Linked DNA regions of Homo sapiens: region 1 is linked to region 2. Evidence: fine-mapped expression QTL. A gene starts in region 2. The other region holds a variant in brackets. All regions are shown on one strand. Distances are from middle to middle.

Evidence for each region. PIP is the estimated chance that this variant, and not a neighbour inherited with it, causes the effect.
Region 1: its variant is the best candidate, but not a certain one, in a credible set for the expression of LINC03084 in amygdala (GTEx, PIP 0.75).

What each region holds. Positions count from the first base shown.
Region 1 is chr8:105,208,380-105,213,777 of GRCh38, forward strand. No RefSeq gene overlaps it. Among named protein-coding and RNA genes, the nearest start is that of LINC03084, 22 kb to the left of the region's middle. RefSeq lists a silencer at 262-556. The variant C/T (reference allele first, on the strand shown) is at 2,099.
Region 2 is chr8:105,186,420-105,191,817 of GRCh38, forward strand. LINC03084 (long intergenic non-protein coding RNA 3084) reads right to left here and starts at 2,376. Exons shown (of 3, transcript NR_187537.1): 1 at 2,117-2,376.

The DNA.
Region 1 (5,398 bases), 22 kb after region 2:
TCATTATTGTTTCAAATATTGCTTCTGTTCCTTTTTCTCTTTCTTCTTTTGGTATCAACATTAAATATGCATTACACTTTTTGTACATGTTCCATAGTTCTTGGATATTCTGTACTTCTGTTTCTATTCTTCTTTCTCTTTGCCTTTCAGTTTTGGAAGTTTCCGTTATCATATCATCAAGCATAAAGACTCTTTCCTCAGGTGTGTCCAGTCTACTAATGAGCCCATCAAAAGCATTTTTCAGTTCAATTACATTTTTTTTAATCTCTAGCACTTCTTTTTTTTTTTCTTAGAATTTCTATCTTCTGCTTTCATTCTGTTGTTGCATAGGCTATCTACTTTTTCCAGTAACTCCCTTAGCACATTAGTCATAGTGTAAAAAAAAATTTCTGGCCTGATAATTCCAACATTCCTGCCATATCTGACTCTGGCATGAATCTTATCAGTCTATCTTATGATTAATTCTCCATCTTTTGGTGAGCCTGTGCCCCTGGTCTGTAAACTTCACTGTTATTTCTCAGGTTTTTTTGTTTTCTATTGCTGCTTTGTTTGCCACTTAGGTGGAGCAGGATGGCTGGAGTGGGCTGGAGTTGTGTATTTCCCCTTTCCTATGTGGAAGGCTAGAAGAATGTTCATGATTTTTTTTTAAATTTGGCATAAAATTCTTCCTTCAAGGGGAATTTTTATAACTCTTAACATATGTCCTTTGAAAATCCTGATATTTTTCTCGGCAAAAATGTTTTTATTTTATTTATTCATTCTTGAATGAGTATAAATTACAGAATTCTAGTTTGACAGCTTTTCATTAGCAGCACTGTGAAGATGTTGTTCCATTTGTCCTGAACTCTATTTTGCTTTTGAAATATTTGCTGTCCCATAATATGAATTTTCCAAGTTTTTTCCTATAATTTAAGTTCTAATTAATCTGCACTGTGGCAGAAAAAAAAAATGCACTATATCAAGCCTTTGAAATGTATAAGCCTTGCATAAGTGCTCTATGATCCATTTTGATAAATGTTTCAAATGTACTTGAAAAACATGTATATTCTGTAATTAATTGGCATATTCGAATATGCCAATTAGATCAAGTTGGTTAATGGTATTATTCAAAACTTTGACATCCTTATTGCTCTTTTTTTGTTTGCCTATTCTATCAGTTATTAAGAGAGGTGTGTTAAATTCTTCAACTAAGATTTTGGATTGTCTATCATTTTAAATCTTAACTTTTGGTTTACATATTTTAAAGCAGTTTTCAAGTGCCTGCAAATTTAAAATTGTTAAATATTCCTATTGATTCAAATGTTTTATAATTATAAAATATTTTATAATTATAAAATATCTTTATTTCTCTTAATATGTTTTGCTTTAAAGTCTATGTTGACTGATAATATATTCACACTAGCTTTCTTTTGAATAATGTATTTATGGCACAACTTTTCCATCAGTTATGTTTCAAACTGTCTGTATTTATATTTAGAGAGTATGTTTTGCAGACAACCTTCAGAATGGGAGAAAATTTTTACAATCTATCTATCTGACAAAGGTCTAATATCCAGAATCTACAAGGAACTTAAGCAAATTTACAAGAAAATAAACCAACCCCATTAAAAACTAAGCGAAAGACATGAACAGACACCTCTCAAAAGAAGACACAAATGTGGCTAACAAACATATGGAAAAAGCCTCAACATCACTGATCATTAGAGAAATGCAAATCAGAACCACAATGAGGTACCATCTCACACCAGTCAGAATGGCTATTATTAAAAACTTAAAAAATGACAGATGCTGGAGTACTTGTAGAGCAAAAGAAATGTTTTTAAACTGTTGGTGGGAGTGTAAATTAGTTCAACTATTGTAAAAGACAGTGTGGTAATTCCTCAAAGACCTAGAGGCAGAGATACCATTTGACGCAGCAATCCCATTGCTGAGTGTATACCCCCCAAAATATAAATTATTTTATAATAAAGATACATGCATGCATATATTCATTGCAGTAGTATCCACAATAGCAAAGATACGGAATCAACCTAAATGCCCATCAGTGATAGAATGGATAAGAAAACGTGGTATATCTACATTATGGAACACTATGCAG[C/T]TATAAAAAGGAATGAGATCATGTTCTTTTCAGGGACATGGATGGAATTGGAAGCCATTATCCTCAGCAAACTAACACAGGAACAGAAAACAAAACACCACATGTTCTCACTTATAAGTAGGAGCTGAATGATGGGAACACATGGACAATTGAGGGTAAATAACACACTGGAGCTTGTGGAAGCTGGGGGAGGTAGAGCCTCAGGAAGAATAGCTAATGGATGCTGGGTTTAATACAGAGGTGATGGGATGATCTGTACAGCAAACCACCATGGCACATATTTACCTATGTAATAAACCCACTCATCCTGCACATGTACCCCTGAACTTAAAAGTTGAAGGAAAAAAAAAGAGCATGCTTTGTAAATGGCATATAGATGGATCTTTTTTTAAAAAAAAGGCTAATGTGGCAATCTTTGTCTTTTTATTGACATATTCCATCAATATGTTTGATGCAATTATTGATATAGTTGAATTTTAGTCTACTATCTTAATAATTTTGTTTTAATTTATACCATCTATTATTTGTTCTTCTTTATTTCTTTCCTTTTAAAATCAGTGATTTATTTGTATTCCATTTTTATTTGTTTTTTCTTTTTTTTTCTTTTTTTTGAGATGGTGTCTCACTCTGTTGCCCAGGCTGGAGTGCAGTGGTGCAATCTCAGCTCACTGCAACCTCTGCCTTTCAGATTCAAGTGATTCTCCTACCTCAGCCTCCTGAGTAGCTGGTATTACAGGCATGCCACCATGCCTGGCTAATTTTTGTGTTTTTAGTAGAGATGGGGTTTCACCATATTGGCCAGTCTAGTCTTGAACTCCTGACCACGTGATCCACCCGCCTCAGCCTCCCAAAGCCATTTTATTTCTTAAATTAGCTTTTTTATGTCTTTTGTCTTATTATTGTATTTTTATTGTTTCTTTAGAAATTGCTAATGTTTCCTTACTTTATTTAAAAAACTTCTATAAATTTATATTTTTATCATATTTCTAAGAAAGAATCTTACTAAATTGTTGTTTAGATCTATTTACCTTTGTTTTTTAAACATACCTTTTTTTTTTTTTTAAACACTTAGGCTATTGCCATGTATTTTACTTTCATACTTTTTAGGTCCCTTAGAGATTGTGGTTACCATTGCTTTAGACAGTAAGAAATCTTATATATTTTTCCACATATCTACCCTTTCTGGTGCTATTATTTTTTTTTCACGTAGATTCTGTTCTCTGGAATCATTTTACTCAACTGAAGAACTTTCTTCAGTAGATTTTCTAGTGCAAATTTGCTAATATTTCATTTCCTCAGTTTTTGTCTGAGGGAATCTTTATTTTGCTTTTATTTGTAAAGAATTTTTTCACTACATATTGAAATTTAAGTTAAGGTTTCTGGTTTTGTTTTGCTTTCCTTTTGGTTCTTCAGCATTTCAAAGAGGCAATTCCATCATCTTCTGGCTCCCAAAGGTTCTGTTAAGAAAATTATTTCTTTCTAGTTTTTTTTTCCTCTAAAGAAAATATGACTCTGTTCTATGGTCATTTTAAATATTTTTACTTAAGTTTTATTTTTTAGTAATTTAATTTGATATTTACTTATGACGATTAGGATTTGCAGAGCATTTTATGAGTTAATGCCTTCATCAGAATTGGAAATTGCGGGGATGCAGTGGGGGCAGTTATTTTGCCAAATATTGTTTCTGTTCCATTTCTTTTCTTTTCACCTCTTGAAAGTAAGCGTACACATATGTTAGACCTTTTACCTAAGTTTTACCTCATTTTTACATTCAGTTATATGTGTGTTTTTTTTTTTTTTAGGTATTTTCTGTATCTGTCCTTGACCATTAATTCTGTCTTCTCCTCTATTATGCTTTTAATCCTTTTCAAAAACATCTCAATGTCAGATGTATTTAGCAGTTATAGACTATTCACTTGATCCTTTTTAAATTGTGTGCTAGGCATTGTTAATGTTACATGTTAGAATTCTGGATTATGTTATTTTCCACTAAAGAGTGTTTATTTTTATTCTGGGTGGTAGATCAATTACTAGTAGATCACATTGATGCTGTCAAAGTTTGGTTTGGGGATTTGAAATAGTGGTTCTATTTCCCTTACTCCTACTGTGTAGCCCTTAATCATAGGGAATGACCTTTCTGGGATCTCACCTCAATGTTTAGGCTCTTCATCAAGGTCTCTATACTCGCTGGAGCTGATCTTCAATGTCTCTCCAAAACATGTGATTTCTGAAGTCTCTGCTTAGCTCTCAACTTCATAGCAAACATTGCTCCTAGGTCTCACATGGGTCTCATCTTTGGTATGTGCAGTTTAAGAGTTACCAATGATGCAAGGAGAAACTTTTTGCATAGTTTGGCTTCATCCTCTCCGTATTCTGCCCTTAAAATTACAACTGCTTTAGCAGCCCCAAAATCCAGTATGTGTATCATCCACTCAGTAAAGCTGCTGTATTCTATTTCTTTGGTCATATTTTGGCAATTCCCTCAAGGAGACAAGTGGGGTGAATGTGAAGCTTAGTGTGTATGCTGACCTTCTCCCAATGATGTTTCTCAGTACCTGCAAACACTTGTTTTATATATTTTATCCAACTCTGATAGAAATTATTACAGCAAGAGATTTAGTCTTATATCAGCGATACCATTGTGTTTACTAATGGAATTCCTTCTTTTGTATTTTTTCTTTGTAACACCTTTATTGAGGCATGATTGACAAACACTAAACATACATATTTAAGCTGTACAATTTGATGAATTTTAATATTTGAATATTCCAGGAAGCAATCACCAAAATCAATATAATAAATAAAACAATTATTTATAAGTTTTCTTGTGTCCCTTTGTAGTTTCTCCTTCTTCAAGACAATCACTGATCTGCTGTCAATATATATTAATTTACATTCTATAGAATTTTACATCTATAGAATCACACAATAAGTACTCTTTTTATTAACCTGGCTTCTTTCATTCAGCATAATTATTTTAAGATTCATCTATGTTATATGTATGTGTAAATATTTTATTCCTTTTTATTACTGACTACAATTCTATTGTATATAAATACCATATATATTAAATTTTTAAAAATTTTTAAATTGAAATTTATAGTTCGTGGCACAAAGAAAAGAACACTTAGAACTATACTTAGTAATACTTTCTAAAGTTTCAGAGAATATTTCCTTTAAAAATTTCAAAACTCACCATTTTAAAATAAAATTACTTATACCCTACATCCATACCATTTTAATTACATTGATAATTTTCAGATTGGTATTTTTGATGCACTCTATCATGCCTTAATAACT
Region 2 (5,398 bases):
CCTGGGGGTGGAGTGGAGATGGCCCCATTTCACCGTGATTTCAGGGAAGCAGGCTGGGGCACCCAGCAATGGCATCCACAGACTGGTTCCAGGTCACTGAACTGGCTCTACCTGCAAGTCTCACTGCCTAGGATAAACTGCAGCTTTAGAAGCTCTCCCCACCCTAGACTTGTCACAAGGAAGAGCACAATTCCAGCGCCTACTGTTGAGGTGCTTTCCACAGTTCTGGCTGTGGAGGCCACAACCCGGCCCCAGAGCAGGCACTCCAATGTCTGGCCTGAGACTCAAATGTCTGTGTGACCATGCTGCCAGGTTACCAAAGAATGGCTGACCAGATCATGCAACCAGATTAAAAATGTTGTCCTCCTCTCAATCCCAGGTCTAGGAAAATGTCTGAAGCTTTTCCCACTGTCTTTCCCTCATGGCATCTCCAAGCCTCTCCTCAAGTTAGTTTCAGGGTTTGAGAGAAACAAAGTGCTCTCCCTTGGGTTGCTCAGATCCCTAGTGGAAAGGTGAGTCATATAGGGCAGCTCTCTGCATCTCTCACTTACTGAGGCTTCACTTACTTTTGTCAGGCAGATGCCATCATTGGGATTTTTGCCAGCATTCTCTCTGAGATCTTGGATGCTTTTCATTATTTCAGTAGATTCCTGTTTTCCTTCTTGAATTAACACTGAGTTTATCTTTATGCACTATCTGTCTATTTCCAAATGGCTGAGGCATGGTAAAAGCATATAATCTAGCATCTTTGGAAAAAATGGAAGCAAAATTATGTAAGTTTTGAATACCATGTTGTAGGATAATAATATAGATGTATTTTTGCTTAAAGCCAAACTTTTTTATGTTGTGTTGTCATTGTTGTGGGGTTTATTTGTTTACTAAACTCTGCAAGAGGTAAAATCAGATTACACTGTAATATTTGCTATATGAGATATTTTCTTCTACTAATTGCAAGCTAAAAATAAGTTAACCAATGGCTCCCTGTTAGGAAATTAAAAATACAATTTCATATGTTTCTTACGAGGACTAAAGAACCATAAACCTCTTCTTTGCGTATAAGGATGGCAAAGAGCTCAATTTTTTTCTGAGCAATTTTGTTCCCTTTTCTGAATGGTAAATTTAGTATTATTGAATAATAGACTACAACGATTTAATCTTGAATTATTTTATCAAAGGACACTTAGGTTATTTTATTTATTTCCAAGAGTATTTCTTGTATTTAGTTTATGTTTGCTTATACGTGATAGAACATATATGAATCTATTCTGGATTACCAATATTGAATAACAAAAAGGATGTTTGGCAGATTATAGACAAATATTTTAGAAAGCATATTCTGCTTAAAATTTTATTTTTCATACAGTCACGAGTAATCAACTCATAACTAACCTATAACTTAATGTCGATGCCCCAAAGCTAAAGAGAAGGTCCATAGGAAAATAAGAAAATAGATGTAAAAAGAAGTACTTCTAGAGACATGAAATTTCAGTACAACAAATAGATAAATCTAAAACTTCCTTTAGAATTATTTTCCATCTATAATTTGACTTATCAGCACCATTTGTTGATATCACACAATAAAAAAAGACTTCAAAATTCAGAATATAAAATTCTAAACCCTGCCCGATACTAATCAGGAGTAAAAACAAAATAAAATATTTTAAGGCTTTCAAATCTTGAATTTACCTCTCATGTTCCTTTTCTGAGGATGGTTCTTAATGATATCATTCGTGATAATGAATCAGAAAACAGAAACAGAAACTAAGAAAGACAAATTGTGCAATATAAGAAGCGAGGAAATTCACCCTGGAAGCTAAAGAAAACAGACTCTAGAATGACAGCGTTTGGTAAACACAGAAAATAATTGGCAGTCTTAGAATAGGAATTTAGTGGGCTACAAGACAAACATCTTTGGAGGAATTAAATGGACATCAGCAAGATGATTGAATAGGGAGCCCTAGCCTCTCTTTCCTCTAAGGAGAAAGCAATTCAACAACAATACAGACCATTTCCCTTTGTGAGAAATCCAGAAACCAACTAAAAGGTTCCAGCATCCCAGGCAAACACAAACCCAGCTGCACCAATGCCAGTAGGAAGATTCATGGCAAACACTTACCATAGGCCCTCTTCCTCAGTGCAATGCAATTGAGAGAAAACTCCCAGATCTCAGTTTCTCCCTTGGAATGGAAAGAGAAGACTGAAACATATGTCCAATGTTGAGACTTTTTCAGGAGCTGCCCAAGGGACTGGTTTATGTCCTGACTAGAAGAACACTGACAGGAAGGGGTGCCAAGTTGAGAGCTGCTGAGAACAAAGGCAAAAATTTGGACCCTTCACTGGCCATGGTCGCTTCCTCTGGCTCAGTAAATAAAGAGTAGAAGAAAACCTCTAACTCCTTGCTTCCTCCTGGAGAGGAAAAGAAATAAAACCAGCAACCAAATTTCTGGCTTTTGGCAGCCTATCTGAGAGGACTAGTTTTTATCTTGCTATCTCAGAGCCATATATGACAAGCCCATAGCTAACATCTTGCTCAACAGTTAAAAACTGAAAAATTTTCCTCTCAAATCAGGAACAAGGCAAGAATGCCCAATCTTGTCACTTCTATTTAACATAGTTCTTGAAGTCCTAGCTAGAGCAAATAAGCAAGACAAAGAAATAAAAGGCATTCAAGTCAGAAAGGAAGATGTAAAATGATCTCTATTAGTAGATTACATGGGTACACAAAAAATTCTCAAGATTCCACAAAAAAAAACCTGTTAGAACTAATAAATTCAGCAACATTGCAGGATCCAAAATTATCACAAAAATTACTTATGTGGCTATACACTAACAATGAAATATCCAAAAAGAAAATTAAGAAAACAATCCTTACAATACTTACAATACTTACAATAGCATCAATAAATATAAAATACTTAGGAATAAACTTAACCAAAGAAGTGAAAGTCTTCTACACTGAAAAACTATAAAACATTACTGAAAGAAATTAAAGAAGACACAAATAAATGGAAAGACATCCCATGTTCATAGATTAAAAGACAAGATTGTAAAAATGCCCATATTGCCCAAAGAGATCTATAGGTTCAATGGAATCCCTATCAAAATCTCAGTGGCATTTGTTGCACAAATAAAAAAGCATCCTTAACCTCATATGGAACCATAAGAGAGCCGAACTAACCAAAGTAAAATTGAGAAAAAATAACAAAAAAAAAAAGCCTCACACTTTGTGACTTCAAAACGTATTACGAAGTTATAGTGATTAAAAATTTGTATATGGGACTGGCATTACAGACATATAGACCAGTGTAACAGATTAGAATGGCCACAAATAAATCTACATATATATGATTAACAAGCATGACATCCTTCAACAAGGATGTCAAGATGTCATCATTGTTGACATCCTTCAACAAGGATGTCAAGATGGCACTATGGGAAAAGGATAGTCCCTTCAGCAAATGGTGTTGGGAAAGGTGGCCATTCACATGCAAAAGATAGAAATTGGACCTTTATCTCACACCAAACACAGAAATCAATTCAAAATAGTCTGTGATTTGTCTTTTTCTGTTTTGTTTCCTTTTAAATTTTTGTGGGTACGTAGCATGTGTATATATTTATGGGGCACATGAGATATTTTGATACAGGCATACAATGCATAGTAATCACATCAGAATAAGTGGCATATTCATTACCTCAAATATTTATACTTTATTCGTGTTACAAACAACCCAATTATGCTCTTTTAGTTATTTTTAAATGTACAATAGATTATTGCTAACTGTAGTCATCCTGTTGTTTTATCAAATACTAGATCATATTTATTCTATTTTTTGTACACGTTAATCATCCTTTATGCTTCACCCCTACCCAAAACCCTTCCCAGCCTCTCATAATCATCCTTCTACTTTCTATCTACATAAATTCAATTGTTTTCATTTTTAGCCTCCACAAATAAGTGAGAACAGGCAAAGTTTGTCTTTCTGTGTCTGGCTTATTTCACTTAACATAATGACATCCAGTTCCATCCATGTTGTTAAAAATGACAGAAATAACAGTCTTTTTTTTTTTTGCGTCTGAATAGTACTTCATTGTGTATATGTACCACATTTTCTTTATCCACTTATCTGTTGATAGACAGTTACATTGCTTCCAAATCTTGGGTATTGGAATACTGCTGCAATAAATGGGAGTGCAGATACATCTTATATCTTTGATATACTAATTTCCTTTCTTTTGAGTATATACCTAGTAGTGGGACTGCTGGATTCTATGGTAGTTCTATTTTTAGTTTTTTGAGAAACCTCCAAACTGTACTCCATAGTAGTCATACTAATATACATTTCCACCAACAGTGTACAAAGGTTCCTTTTTCTCCATATCCTTGCCAGCATTTGTTATTGACTATATTTTGGATACAAGCTATTTTAATTGGGGTGAGGCAATATCTCACTGTAGTTTTTATTTGCATTTCTCTGATGATCATTGATGCGGAGCACCTCTTCATACATCTATTTGCCATTTATATGTCTTTATTTGAGAAATGTCTTTTCAGATATTTTGACCATTGTTTAATTGTATTATTAGATATTTTCTTAGAGTTATTTCAGTTCCTTATATATTCTGGTTATTAATCCATTGTCTTATCAATAGTTGCAAATATTTTCTCCCATTCTGAAAATTGTCTCTTCACTTTGTTGATGGTTTCCTTTGCTGTGCAGAAGCTTTTTAACTTGATGTGATCCCATTTGTCCGCATTTGCTTTGGTTGCCTGTGCTTGTGGAGTATTACTCAAGGAATCTTTGCCCAGTACAATGTCCTGAAGAGTTTCCCCAAGGTTTTTTTTTTTTAGTAGTTACATAGTTTGAGATTTTATATTTAAGTCTTTAAGTCATTTTGATTTAATTTTTGTATACAGTGAGAGATAGAGGTGTAGTTTCATTCTTGTGCATATAGGTATTTTGTTTTCCCAGCACCATTTATTGAAGAGACTGTCTTTTCCCCAATGTATGTCTTGGCACCTTGTTAAAAATGAGCTCACTGTAGGTGTGTGGTTTTATTTCTGGGTTCTGTATTCTGTTCCATTGGTCTATGTGTCTGTTTTCATGCCAGTGTCATGCTGTTTTGGTTACTATAGCTCTGTAGTGTAATTTAAAGTAAGGTAATGTGATTCCTCCAGTTTTGTTATTTTTGCTCAGGATAGCTTTGGCTATGCTAGATCCTTTGTGATTCCATATAAATTTTAAGGTTGTTTTTTCTATATCTGTGAAAAATATCATTGGCATTTTGACAGGGATTGCATTCAATCTATAGATTGCTTTGGGTGGTATGGGGATTTTAACAATATTTATTCTTCCATTCCATGAACATGGAATATCTTTCAATGTTTTTGTCCTCTTTA